Linked DNA regions of Homo sapiens. The protein of the gene in region 1 purifies or fractionates together with the protein of each later gene. This does not show direct contact. Each region holds a gene or a part of one and is shown in the gene's direction. Other genes may lie near its edges.

Region 1 (7,022 bases):
AGTATATTAACATAATAGAATACTGTACAACAGAAAACTAATGAACTACAACAAAAAATATCAACATGGATACATCTCAAAACCATCTCAATATAGTGTAACAAGAGCAAGTTGCAGATGGATACAAATAATATTTATATACTTACAGAATACTTCTAATTGTTTATGAATATGCATATATGGTAATATATAAAATGATAAGCACCAAGCTCAAGCTAGGGCTTGACTTTGGTAAAGAATAGGATTGGGAAAAGTCTGAAAAATGAATCTGAAGCAAAGATGGAAAAATGTTAATGTTTGCCAAATCCGGGTGATATATGAGGATATTTGTTGTATTCTCTATGCTATTTTATATTCTTAAAATATTTAATAATAGATAAATAATAAACTTAAGTTTTAGCTTAATTTAGGTTAAGAGTCTTACCTAAATTCATACAATACATGCTAGGAGACATCAGGATTCAAACCTATCCTGTGCTTCTCATAGCCAGTTGTTTTTATTGTTCACTTCTAAAGTATCCTTTGGGAGGCGAGGCAGTAGAATTGCTTGAACCCAGGAGACGGAGGTTGTAGTGAGCTGAGATTGCACCACTACTCTCCAGCCTGGGCAACAGAGCAAGGCTCCATCTCAAAAAAAAAAGTATTAACTGATTTTGTCTTATGAATTTTCAGTAAGTCTTTGATACAAAAAGGTAAGATCTCTGAAGCACAGTTTCTGTTAGGCTTTGCACATTTGTTGGCTGTAGTAGTACATTGTAGGAATTCAGTAAACAATCCATTGCTTGACTGGTTGCCATATATGTGTTGCATGTGGGGGTATGATTTATGGTCAGTATATCTCAATCTAAATAATAATAGTATTAGGACAGAGTTCTGCTATTACATCTTTAGTACAGTTAGGTGTTAAATTCATTAGTCCAGGTTCTGAAAGGGAATGACAATGGTTTTTAATTTCCTTTATCAACTGTGTTAAGAAATGTATTTCCACAATTGTCACATAATATTCCATGTCACTTCATGAACTGGTAAATGACACACTTTTAGTATTCTCTTTATTATTGTAGGTATCATGACTTAATATCATCTTTATTTATTATTGTAGGTATCATGACTGGTGCCTTTTATTCAGTCTCAACGTTATTAAATCAAATGATATTGACATATTATGAGGTAAGCTTCTGCTTATATCAGATTGCATGCCTGGCCAAAAATTTTTCTTTAGCAATATAATTGTCGTTAGCAGGGTCATGAGATTAAGGGTTATGACATTGTTGCTATCAAATATTTACATTTGTTTTAATTGAGAATATATTTGTTAAAAAATGAAATTTCCACAACTTTATATATCTAATTGGCTTTTATTATCAATTCGTTTATTGGACAGCATCCCATCTAAAGATTTAGAAAGGTACTGATGAGCTGAGCAGAGGAGATGGGCTTTATAGGCAGAAAAAGGCTGAAGAAAGCAGAAACAAGGAACAAAGAGCAGATTGGTTGCTACAAAGTTACTTTCCTTATAGGAGTAAAACAAAGGGGACTGGGCCCCATCTGATAGGTTGCTATGAATCTCCTTTTTTTTTTTTTTTTGGAAAAGTGGCCCATTTTAAAGTTCAGTTTGATTATGTGACACCTAGCACTAGTGACACCATTCTATGTGGTCTGGTCTGTTGGGCCTACTGTGGGAGCTCACTCCAAAACAATGGCCTCCCATCATTTTAATTTAACATATTTAATCCAGTTTATAAAGCACATAGTATGGCCAGGCATAGTGGCTCACGCCTGTAATCCCAGCACTTTGGAAGGCCGAGGCGGGTGGATCACCTGAGGTCGAGACCAGCCTGACCGACATGGAGAAACCCTGTCTCTACCAAAAATACAAAATTAGCTGGGCATGGTGGCGCATGCCTGTAATTCCAGCTATTCGGGAGGCTGAGGCAGGAGAAACACTTGAGCCTGGGAGGTGGAGGTGGCGGTGAGCCGAGATCGTGCCATTGTATTCCATCCTGGGCAATAAGAGTGAATCCCCATTTAAAAAAAAAACAGGCTGGGCGCCGTGGCTCACACCTGTAATCCCAGCCAAGATAGCGCCACTGTACTCCAGCCTAGTGACAGAGTGAGACTCCATCTCAAAAAAACGAAACAAAACAAAATACACACACACACAATATGGAAAGCAGAAGTTACTATCCCTGTGACAATACCTAAGTTTATTTTTAGGAAATAATATGATTGGTTATATGGAAAAAGACAAAACATTTTAAGGGAACTCAGCATAAATATAGATAAATAAATATCAAGTTTTGATTGACGTATCTGCTTTTGAAAGGATAAAGCAGTTGTACTATGTAAAAGCTATCGATTAACCTCCTTTTCAGATATCTATACAGTGTCATACCTTGCTTAGTGACAGGAATACCTTCTGAGAAATTCGCTAGGCAATTTCATTGTTGTGTGAATATCATAGAGTGTACTTACGCAAACCTGATGGTAGAGCCTGCTACATACCTAGGCTACGTGGTATAGCCTATTGCTCCTAGGCTACAAACCTGTATAACATGTTATGCTACTGAATGTTGTAGGCAGTTGTAATACAATGGTAAGTATTGTGTATCTAAATATATCTAAACAGAGAAGGTAGAATAAAAATACAGTATTATAATCTTACAGGATCATACTGTATATATGATTCAGAGTTGACCTAAATGTAATTATGGAGCACATGACTATCTATACTTAAGAATCCTAACAAAAATCATTGTACTTCTAACCATAGAGGATTAAGGAAAATTTACCTTTTTTATTTCTTCTATTATTTTAGGCTTTTTTTCTGGTTTTAAAATATAATGCTTTTATATATTCTTTACCTGCCCTCCCCTCCCACACTGACACATGTACTAAATCTTCCTACTGTGTGCTTAGTTTTATCTAATTATTTTCATTGACTATGAAAAGGTGTGGGAATGTGAAGAGTCTGAATTAGTTAATCCATTTATTTGATCAACTTCTTACGCAAATTTTTTTCAGGGAGAAGAAGTCAATGCTGGAAGGATTGGGCTAACGCTAGTAGTAGCTGGAATGGTGGGCTCTATTCTTTGTGGCTTATGGCTGGATTATACTAAAACATACAAGTAAGTGAAAGTAAATACATGTATGGTGTATAACCAAAGGTATTTTGATTTTAAAGGACAATTTGCTTTTTATTTCAAGAAATTTAAAACATGTTATTACTTAAAGATACGGATTCTAAACACTAGTAGGTTCTCTTCACTTAACAAGTGTTTCTTTTTTTTTTTTTTTTTTGAGACGGAGTCTCGTTCTGTCGCCCAGGCTAGAGTGCAGTGGCGCAATCTCGGCTCACTGCAACCTCTGTCTCCCGGCTTCACGCCATTTTCCTGCCTCAGCCTCCCGAGTAGCTGGGACTACAGGCACCCGCCACCATGTCCGGCTAATTTTTTTATATTTTTAGTAGAGACGGGGTTTCACCTTGTTAGCCAGGATGGTCTCGATCTCCTGACCTTGTGATCCACCCGCCTCGACCTCCCAAAGTGCTGGGATTACAGGCGTGAGCCACCGCGCCCAGCAACAAGTGTTTCAATACTCTATGTATTGTATTATTTTATTGGTCACATTTATTTCAATTCTGAGAACTTGGATACCTTATGAGCCCCTTCTTTCTAACAGTACTCATACCTACCACTTCCGAAGGAATTATTTCTATTCTAAAAAGAGCCATTTCTGAGAAATATTTGACTTTTGATAGACTTTATCTTGTTCTTTTTTTTTTTTTTTTTTAGGTGGGGTCTCACTCTGTCACCCAGGCTGGAGTGCAGTGGCACCATCTTGGCTCACTGCAACTTCTGCTTTCCAGGCTCAAGTGATTCTCCCACCTCAGCCTCCTGAGTAGCTGTGACCACAGGTGTGCGCCACCACACCCGGCTAATTTTTTGACTTTTTGATAGAGACAGTGTTTCACCATGTTGCCCAGGCTGATTTTGAACTCCTGAGGTCAGGCAATCTGCCCACCTCAGCCTCCCAAAGTGCTGGGATTACAGGCATGAGCCACTGCACCTGGCCTATGTTGTTCTTTTTTTATGTTGTGGGCTTAAATACAAAAACAAAAAAGTAGTTCTTTCCAATCAAAAAATTATTGTTGAGCATAAGGCTTTATTTTGGTAAGAACTTTTTGGCTAAAGTACGCCCAGACTACAGTACCACTTAACTGTAATATAATGCATAATGTGAAAATGCTGGTTTGACACAATGTCTTATGCCTGTAATCCCAGCATTTTGGGAGGCCAAGGCGGGTAGATTGCTTGAGGCCAGGAGTTCGAGACCAGCTTGGGCAACATGGTGAAACGCCATCTCTACTGAAAATACAAAAAATAGTCAAGTGTGGTGGTGGGCACCTGTAATCCCAGCTACTCAGGAGGCTAAGGAAGGAGAATTGCTTGAACCCAGGAGGCAGAGGTTGCAGCGAGCTGAGATAGCGTGCCACTGGTCTCCAGCCTGGGTGACAGAGCAAGACGCTGTCTAAAAAAATAAAAAAAAAAGAATATACTCTGTTAATTGTACATTATATGGAACCACCAAAAGGCTAATACCAAAGAAAATGAATGATACCAACTGGGAGACTAAGAAAGGGGTTTCAGAGGCAGCATATTTTGCTCTGGGAGTGAAAAGAATCACCACATTTTGTAACATGCCAAAACTTACCCCTGTACTTGGAAATGAATGAATGAAACTATTAAGGAATAAATGAATGAAATATGGAACTGTGTCCCGTGTACCTTTCAAGGCTCAAGATATATTTGATATTATTAGTCTAAACGCTACCAAAAGTATCTCTAATCTTGAAATTCTCCATATTCTTCCATAATTTAAGACAGCACTTGCCTTAGCTTCATTATTTTAAAATGATAGCTTAGAGTGAAACCTACTTGATATATAGATGAAGGGAGCATATGTAAAGGATTATATTTCTTAAGTCTTTCATCCGTTATACATTTAGAAAACTTGATAGGCATAGATGTGTGTTCTTTGCCACTGTGGCTTCCTTCTCAGGGTAACTGCCATTCATTCACCAAACTCCTGTTGTGTGCATCTTTCTTAGATGAAAATTATGGCTGGCATTATGTGATCCCTGTTCTTAAGATGTTTGTGGTCTAAATGGAGCAAATAAGGCATTCACATGTGAAAAGTTAAATAATATAACAAACTAAAATAGATGTCATAAGTTTTATAGTGCCAGTATGATAAGGGAATTTGGAAGAAAGAGAGACTCTTATAAACTGGTGTCGTTACAGAAGGCATTTGGAAGAGGTAGAATTTGATCTGAATCTTGAAATGTGAATAGGGAACTATCCCATTTGGTGGCATAAAAATGATTTTATTCCTATAAAAGGATCCTATCTGAGCATTCGATATGGTGTGGTTTTCTGGTGCTGCTGAATCTTAAATTAAAAATGCTTTAAAATTTGTGCTTTGGTGGATACATATTTCCATGGACAAGAAGGGGTGAACTTTGAAAAACAAAGATTCATTACTGAACAGGTAAGAGTGATGATTTTTGTATTCCTAGGAGAATCAGACAAAATACTAACAGCTTTGTTGTTTTTGTTTTAGACAGACTACTCTGATAGTTTATATTTTGTCTTTTATTGGAATGGTTATCTTTACTTTCACATTGGACCTTAGATATATTATCATCGTGTTTGTTACTGGAGGGGTGCTTGGGTAAGTATCAGATGTGTTTAGGAGGAATGATAGCATGCTGTTATAATTCTGAAGTATTATTACTCTGGTCTTTAATTTTTTCAGTTCATCCAAAGTTTCTTCAATATTTTAAACTTTAAAGGATTCATTCTATGCATATAAACATGTAATTCTTAAGAACTATTAAAAATTATTTAAAATTGGTTTTTGGTATACCATAGGTAAAAAATGGATGAGCCTTACTTAATCTGTGTAACTTTATTTGGTTACAATCAACTTATAAAACTAGAAGTAAATTTTTCTCAGAAAAAAATGTGTATTTGTTGCTTCCAGTTCTGTAACCTTGAGCTGATTGGTCAATGATAATAGTTCCTTACTTTGACATAGCAACTTCAAAATATTCACTTATTTGGTCATTAGAATAAGCCCGAGAGGCAGAATGATTGCATCAGTATGTGATTGTGACTTTCTGGTAGTTCTTTCTGTAATTCTGGATTTATTTTCCTAGCTTCTTCATGACTGGTTACCTCCCTTTGGGTTTTGAATTTGCTGTTGAAATCACTTACCCTGAATCTGAAGGTACTTCATCTGGTCTTCTTAATGCTTCTGCACAGGTAAACCTCTGATTTCTCTAAACCTGAGATGATTATTATACCAGATATTCTAGTGAGTAATGAGTTTGACCATGGTTTTATTTGTTGTTGTTGTTGTTTTGTTTTTTGGAGACAGAGTCTTGCTCAGCCATCCAAGCTGGAGTGCAGTAGTGCAGTCATGGCTAACTATAGCCTCAAACTCCTAGGCTCAAGCAATCCTCCCCCCTCTGCCTCCAGAGTTTTTGGGACTGCAGGTGCACACCAGCATGCCCAGCTAAATTTTTTTTGTTATTTTTTGTAGAGATGGTGTTTTGCCATGTTGTCCAGGCTGGTCTCGGACTCCTGGGCTCAAGCAATTCGCCTACCTCAACTCCCAAAGTGCTAGGATTACAGTGGGTGTGAGCCACTGCACCCAGCCTGACCGTGGTTTTTGTTTTAACAATTCAACTTTTCAATGAATGTTTCTAGAAACCAAATCATATAACCAAAATAAGAAAAGTTCTGGTGAAAACTTTATACTTGCTTTAAATAATTTAACTTAATAACGAATGATTTTTCTTATTGTATTTTAGATATTTGGAATTTTGTTCACATTGGCTCAAGGAAAGCTCACATCAGACTATGGTCCTAAGGCAGGGAACATTTTTCTCTGTGTCTGGATGTTTATAGGCATCATATTAACAGGTAAATTAGGGCGTTTGCCTGGCAAAAGGACTT
Region 2 (7,109 bases), on another chromosome or scaffold:
TGCCACCACGCCTGGCTAACTTTTTCTATTTTTAGTAGAGATGGGGTTTCACCATGTTGGTCAGGCTGTTCTTGAACTCCTGACCTCAAGTGATCTGACTGCCTCAGCCTCCCAAAGTGCTGGGATTATAGGCATGAGCCACCATGCGCCCAGGCTGGAGTGCAGTGGCATGATCTCGACTCACTACAACCTCCGCCTCCTGAGTTCAAGCGATTCTGGTGCCTCAGCTTCCGGAGTAGCTGGGATTACAGGTGCCTGCCACCACGCCCTGCTAATTTTTGTATTTTTAGTAGAGATGGGGTTTCACCATGTTGGCCAGGCTGTTCTTGAACTCCTGACCTCAAGTGATCTACCTGCCTTGGCCTCCCAAAGTGCTGGGATTACAGGCGTGAGCCACTGCACCTGACCTGTTTTCATTAAATATTCTAAGGTACTGGGAAATCAACAATATTGATTTAGCACCTCTAAAAGGAACTAAAAATTCTCCCCACTTTGGTACTCACCTGCACTGTGGTGTTTTATTTCAGGGAACCCAGTAACATCAGCAGTGGCACCAGCAGCTCTAGAAACATATTCTGTCCCCATAAATTGTTGTTATCATGGTGAACACCAGCAAGTGATGCACTTAGGTGGCTTTACAGGCAGCAGTAGGCTTTACAGTGGGCTGAAAAATCCCACTAAACAGGGCTGAGTAGGAGGGAGCATCCTAGTGGGTGCACACAATAAAGAAGAGGGCTCATAAGACGTTTCCAGAGTATGCTCAGAAATAACTGGAAGGATGTGTGTGTCCCCAGCCATAACCACTGGAGCCACAATACAAGGAAATCACCAATGTTGTGCATAACTCCATTTGTTCTCCTGGACTGGTGTTGCCTAGGCAAGTGCTGGGTAGATCAGAATGGATGGGGTGGAAGAATTAAGGGGCATCCAGAGAGCTATTTGATCACTGGAGGGGAAAGGGCATGGGGGGATGCAGACAGGTGGCAAAACCTGGGTCCAAGATATATTTGTCCCAGATATATAAATTGTCACTTTTCTCCCTCCCCTTCTGACTTGCACACTTACAAAGAAGGTTCCTCTTCCTTTTCTAACCATCCCCCACCAGGGAATTTTTCAGGCCTTACAAAGAAGGGAGAGGACCCAGGCCAGTTGGGAGGGTACACGTGGACCTACATCACTCTTTTTGAGGAAGTGAGTAGGGAAACCTAGTTATAAGGAAGCAAGGAAAATAGAGGGAGAGTGAGTACTAAGGCCAGCGCCGTCTATAAACAGAACAATTCCCGTGTGACCTGAAGGTCTAGGAAGACCCGAGGTGAGAAATCTTCACTCCCCTGCCTACTATGGTGCGCCGGATCCCGCCATTTGCACATCTTTGGGCATCTCAGCATCCCCTCTCATGGTCAGAAAGAAATCAAATGAGGATTCAAGTAGGTGCCTGATACTTTTCTTTTAGACTAACCAGAGGAGCCTCTCCCATTCCCCTTTTCCCTGGTCCCCACAAACATCATATTGTTTTAATCTGTCTCCAGGTATAACAATAATAAGACAAAGTCCTTACCCTCAGAGAGCTCACAATATTTTGGTGGAGGTTTGGGTATAAAGGCAAATGTGAAAACATAATTTTACTATAATGGGGTAAAGTTAAGAAAGAGATCTATGCAAACATAGAAAGGAGTGCACTTAAGTCAGTGAAGGTTTTCTGGCTTAGAAGAACCCTGACCTAAAGGAAAAGTAAGAGTTACCTAGATAAGAGCAGGGCAGAACAAGAGAAACTGATCCCTCCACTTCTATTGAGTCACCTGAAATTATATTCATTTTTTGGCAGACATATACCTCCCCCAAACATTCGGCTCTAGTTGTGCCAGTTCTTCCTTGTCAGCCCTCTTACCTTGGCCTGAGGCTTCATTGTCTCCAGTCAGGCGACTATCTCATAGTCACACTCCACTCACGGCAGCCACATTCTGTATTCCAGAACAGCACTTCCTGACAGCACTATAACATTTTCTAGCAGCCACATTTAAGAGGTCAAAAAACAAGTGAAATATTTTACTAATATATTTTATTTAACCCAACATATCTAAAATATTTAAACCATATTTTTAAATTACTGAAATATTTTACATTTTAAAAATATTGTCTTTGAAATTAAGTGTATATTTTATACAGCACATTTCAATTCAGTCTAGCCACATTTCAAATGCTCAATTGCCACATGTAGCTAGATAGTGGTTATACTATGGAGCTCTAAAATTCCGCCCAGACTGAGTGTGCTTGGTGTTTCTCCATTAAACAGATGAGGCCCATCAGTCTGAGGCACAACTATGTATTTTCTCTAAGTCTCTGTACCCCCAAGGCCTTGAAAACAATTCGGAAGGAAGAGAAGGCCTATGAGGTTTCAGCTACAGCAGGCACTCCCTTTAGATGCCAAGCCTAGAAAACCCTAAACTGATGCCTAACTTGCAGCTGAATCACCTTTCAGCAATCAGATTCAGTGCCTCACCAACACATTTGATCCAGGGAGTCTCCAGTTTGTCCTTTGTCCAGTAGAAGACCCACTACAAAGCCTTGATAATTCATCAAAGTGACAGCACCTTCACTGGGCAGTCTGGTGAGAGGACATCTAGCCCTGCCACCCTGGTTCCTGTTGGGAACAGTATCAGATACGTTGTGTTAGATTCACATGAATCTAAGAATCACATGGGCGAAAAATATTGAGAGCATTCTGTTAAAACATTTCCACAAATTGGGAAAAGACCATCTTTAAAAATCTGTTGGGGCCGGGCGCGGTGGCTCACGCCTATAATCCCAGCAATTTGGGAGGCCGAGGCGGGCGGATCACAAGGTCAGGAGATCGAGACCATCCTGGCTAACACAGTGAGACCCTGTCTGTACTAAAAATACAAAAAAAAAAAAAGAAAAAGAAAAAGAAAAAAAAAATTAGCCGGGCGGCGTGGTGGCGGGCGCCTGTAGTCCCACCTACTAGGGAGGCTGAGGCAGGAGAATGGCGTCAACCCGGGAGGCGGAGGTTGCAGTGAGCCGAGATCGCGCCACTGCACTCCAGCCCGGGGGACAGAACGAGACTCCGTCTCAAAAAAAACAAAAAAATCTGTTTACAGAGGTAAAAACACGGGTATTACATGGAGCATAATTTGAAATCCATTCCCTCATATTCAGCCAAGAACTACAGGCCCAGAGAAGGGAAGTGATTTGCCAAAGGTCATTCAACAAATCCCTAGGGGCTGTGATGATCCGTGTCCTTGCCATTACCTCCCTTGTCTCCACTAACAAAAATATTTCAATGGGAGAATGTGCCGATCTAAGGCACTCCTAAAGTACTTGCTGAGAATGACAGCCCTGGGGAGACAGGTCGGCAGCCCTGAACAGGCACTGCCTTACCCGGGCGTAGTGCCCCAATTCGCCACCTCTTGGAGTCCTAGGCGGAGGATACTACTGGGGCAGTTGTTTCGCCAATTCCACATCTCCCGGAGCCTGGCCTGGCCCAGCCCAGCCCCGTCGCTGTGACCCACTTCCTAGCTGCAGGCTGGACCAAGGGGAGGCACATGGGGAGCTCCACAGGGAGGCCACGCCCACGAGGGCAGCTCACAGAATTAGAAAGCCGACGGGGTGCTGTGGTCAGGAGGCGCGTGGGCGGCAGGTTAGTACTTAAGGTGCAGAGACCACCCCCAACCCTTTGACTGGCGGTGGGCATCCCGGAAAGGCATGGCTCGGCCAATTCCAGCCCCGTTTCCACGCTCAGCACCCGCCCTGCCTGTGCGCGAACGGCTCCGGCCCGCACGGGTCGCCAGAGGCGACTGTGTGACACTCGGAGTTTGCTGGGGTCTCCGTGGGCGGGAGGACTTTCCAGCGCAATGGCGACTCCCTAAGCCCCGCAGCTTCTGCGCCCGGGAAAGATATCCAAGAGATGCAAAGCTCTACTGGGCCCAGGCTGCCACCCCAGAGGCCCCCTTCCGTCCCGGGGCCGGGGCTAGGCCAAGGCGGGCACCAGGACTGCCCAGCCTCCCGGCCCTTCGCACTGGTAACCGGTTCCGGGGCGGATGCTTTTTGCATCTGACCCGGCGCGCCCGGTGACGCCTTCGCGTCCAGACGGAAGTGCGGGCGGAGGATCCCCAGCCGGGTCCCAAGCCTGTGCCTGAGCCTGAGCCTGAGCCTGAGCCCGAGCCGGGAGCCGGTCGCGGGGGCTCCGGGCTGTGGGACCGCTGGGCCCCCAGCGATGGCGACCCTGTGGGGAGGCCTTCTTCGGCTTGGCTCCTTGCTCAGCCTGTCGTGCCTGGCGCTTTCCGTGCTGCTGCTGGCGCAGCTGTCAGACGCCGCCAAGGTGAGTCCCGCCCAGCCTCGCTCCTGACGGAAGCTCCTCCCCTACCACCGGCCTTGCGGAAACTGGGTCTGCCAACCTGCTCCTTGGCCCATTCCTGACAGCCATACGCCTGGCCTCACAGCTCCGGCAGACCCCCGCCGCCACCAGCCCCGCCCCTCCCGACTGCCCGGCGGCACTCTCGCCCTCAGCCCCGACAGCCTGGCAGGCAGCGCCCCACGGTCGTCCCCAGCCCCGACAGTGCCCACAGTCCGGACAGCAGCCCCCCACCGCCTTAACATTTCCCTTCCCAGCCCCGGCTGCACGCATCTTACACTTGACAACCTTTTCACCTCCGAGAGCCTTTAACTTTCCACCCTAAGCTCTTGACAGCCCACCTGCGCCCTCCGCCAGCCTCACAGGCCCCGCATGCCCCAAGCCAGAATGATAGGAAGCCCCCATCTGACAGAGCCTTCCCTGTCAAGGGCCGACTCAGCTCAGCTCACCCCTGAACACTTCCCTTCCTGTGGTGGGAACTTGCCCCTCCTGGCCTACTTCCCTCCCAATAGGGCCTACGGAGCATCTCTCACCTGCTTCATATTCTCACCTAACTCCCTCCACGAGTCCCTTGGTGCCTTTCTTGCTTTCTCTCTTCCTGATAATTTAGTGGGTAAGGGAAGAACCAAACTGCAAGAGAGGTGAGGTTGTGGCCTCCCTGGTTCGATTTCTTGACCTTCTAGTTCCCTCATACTGTTCTCTGGTGCCCCAGCTCTCCAGACCTGCCCTAGCTCCATGCATACCTGTGCTTCCTCTTTGATGAGCTAGCTCATCATTGGGGGAGAACAGAAGGGATTCACATTAGTATGATGGGAAAACAGAATGACATTGCGTTTTTAAAAATAAGAGCTTTAATTTATAATATCTTTAAATGTAGGAGTGGGGAAAGGTTACAGGCAGGCAAATGTTTTTGATTCAGAGATTCTTTTTGAAACCATCTCTACCTCCTACCAGAAACAGGGACAGCAGCACGTCTCCTGACTTTGAAAACATTGCTGGCACCCTCTGCATATCTTGCCTCATAACTTTATGTATTGTGATCATGTATTTATTTTTCAGTCTCCTTTACTAGGGTGTGTCCTGGTTATGGGCAGAAACCATGTCTTATGCTTATCTGAATCCACCTTATTGAGCACAAGATCTAACACAGAGCAAATGCTCACTAAGTGGTTGCTGAATACGTTTGTGAATTGTCAATAGCTCTGCCAGACATATCACTGTATATAGGAGGAGTGGGCAAGGTCCTCTGGGGAATGATAAGCCACTTCCTTCTCAAACAGATTCCCCTTTGCTGAGGAAGCATCTCTTCTTTTCTCTATCCAGATACTTAGTCACCTGTTCCTCCACCTCTTGAAACTTGTTTTGTTGGTAGTTGTTCTGTCTGTCAACCAGGAATTAGAAGCAAAGTTTCCTGGGAAGAGTATACTAAACTGATCTCAGAGTCAGGCTACTTCCTGTGTGTACTTCCTTTCTAGTTGTAGGTGGGTGCCTCTAACATTTCATCCCTTCTACGGGACTCTGGCCCAACCCGTTTTATCAATGTCAGTGCCTTCTACCAGAGGGTGAAAGGATGATAGGTAGAATTGTGACCTTTTTTGTGAATAATTTTTAGTTTCTTTCCCATCCTTTAGTAATGAATATTCTTATTTACAGGCACAACTATCTGCTTACCATGTGTCTTTCTAGTGGCAGATAGATGGTAATAACATTAACATAATTTGATTGTCATGTGACCCATAAATATGGTTAATAAGTCTTAGATCATGTATTAGGTATTATTTCAAAATAACTACATGTAATATATAATGATTCATTGGCATTACCATAAAGGACTGTGGCTTTTAAAAACTGTGTCTGTTAAAGTTTTAAATGAATGATTTTAGAATACTTGGTATTCTAAAGAGGATGCTTGGCAAAATGTATATGGTACAGTTTTTAAAAATATTGATGATAAACTGTCAACGCACTATACTGTTTCCATTTTGGTTACAGAATTTCGAGGATGTCAGATGTAAATGTATCTGCCCTCCCTATAAAGAAAATTCTGGGCATATTTATAATAAGAACATATCTCAGAAAGATTGGTAAGTATCTGGATTACTGAATTACCTGTCACATTTGTTTCTGTGGTTGTCAGTGTTATCCCAGAATGTTCATCAAATGCATAGTTTTCTTTTTAAGTATTTCATTTGAAGCAAAAATGTGAAATTCTACTTCCATTTGAAAAAGTGAGAGTGAGGCCCTACGTGCATGATGCCTGCAGGCCTAAAGGTATACAGCCAAAACACTAAGACCCATGTAGGCAGAGTTTCATGGGAGCATATGACTGGGTTTGTGGCACCTAAACTACCCATAGCTATCTTGCTGTACTCCCTCAAGTTTTGGTGAGGGACCTTTCTCCCTCTTGCTTTTCAGTGGAAGGTTAGCAAGCCTCGTTTGTCTGGGTTATAATTTTTACAACTTGTAGGTTTTGATGATGTATTGCCAAGTATGGGAAGCTATGTTTAAAAGTGTCAGAAGGCTCAAGAAGAAGTGGAAATGAGCTATGTAGTCAGAGTTTCCCATTTGGTGTAAATGAAGAAGTTACAGTTGTGCCAAGATATTGACCTGTTCAGTCCTTGGGCAGTCAGGCAGGCCTGTGATGACTGGGGGATCCTGACTGACTAGCCACCAGCAGCCTTCTCTGCTTATCCCAGCAGACCTGACAAATAGCTTTTTCTACGTGTGCCATGAAGCAGTT

The links. Proteins that work in one complex are often made in the same cells at the same time.
Region 2: the proteins of FLVCR1 (region 1) and TMEM9B purify together in Homo sapiens (co-immunoprecipitation; 4 studies listed by BioGRID and IntAct, with this or other methods). This does not show direct contact.

Annotation. Positions count from the first base shown.
Region 1 is NC_000001.11:212,882,269-212,889,290, forward strand, and holds part of FLVCR1 (choline/ethanolamine transporter FLVCR1), read left to right. Parts: intron 1-1,102; coding exon 1,103-1,170; intron 1,171-3,024; coding exon 3,025-3,128; intron 3,129-5,622; coding exon 5,623-5,733; intron 5,734-6,220; coding exon 6,221-6,326; intron 6,327-6,877; coding exon 6,878-6,989; intron 6,990-7,022.
Region 2 is NC_000011.10:8,961,436-8,968,544, reverse strand, and holds the start of TMEM9B (transmembrane protein 9B isoform a precursor), read left to right. Parts: upstream 1-4,102; 5' UTR 4,103-4,231; coding exon 4,232-4,336; intron 4,337-6,361; coding exon 6,362-6,453; intron 6,454-7,109. UniProt on the Homo sapiens protein: Enhances production of pro-inflammatory cytokines induced by TNF, IL1B, and TLR ligands. Has a role in TNF activation of both the NF-kappaB and MAPK pathways.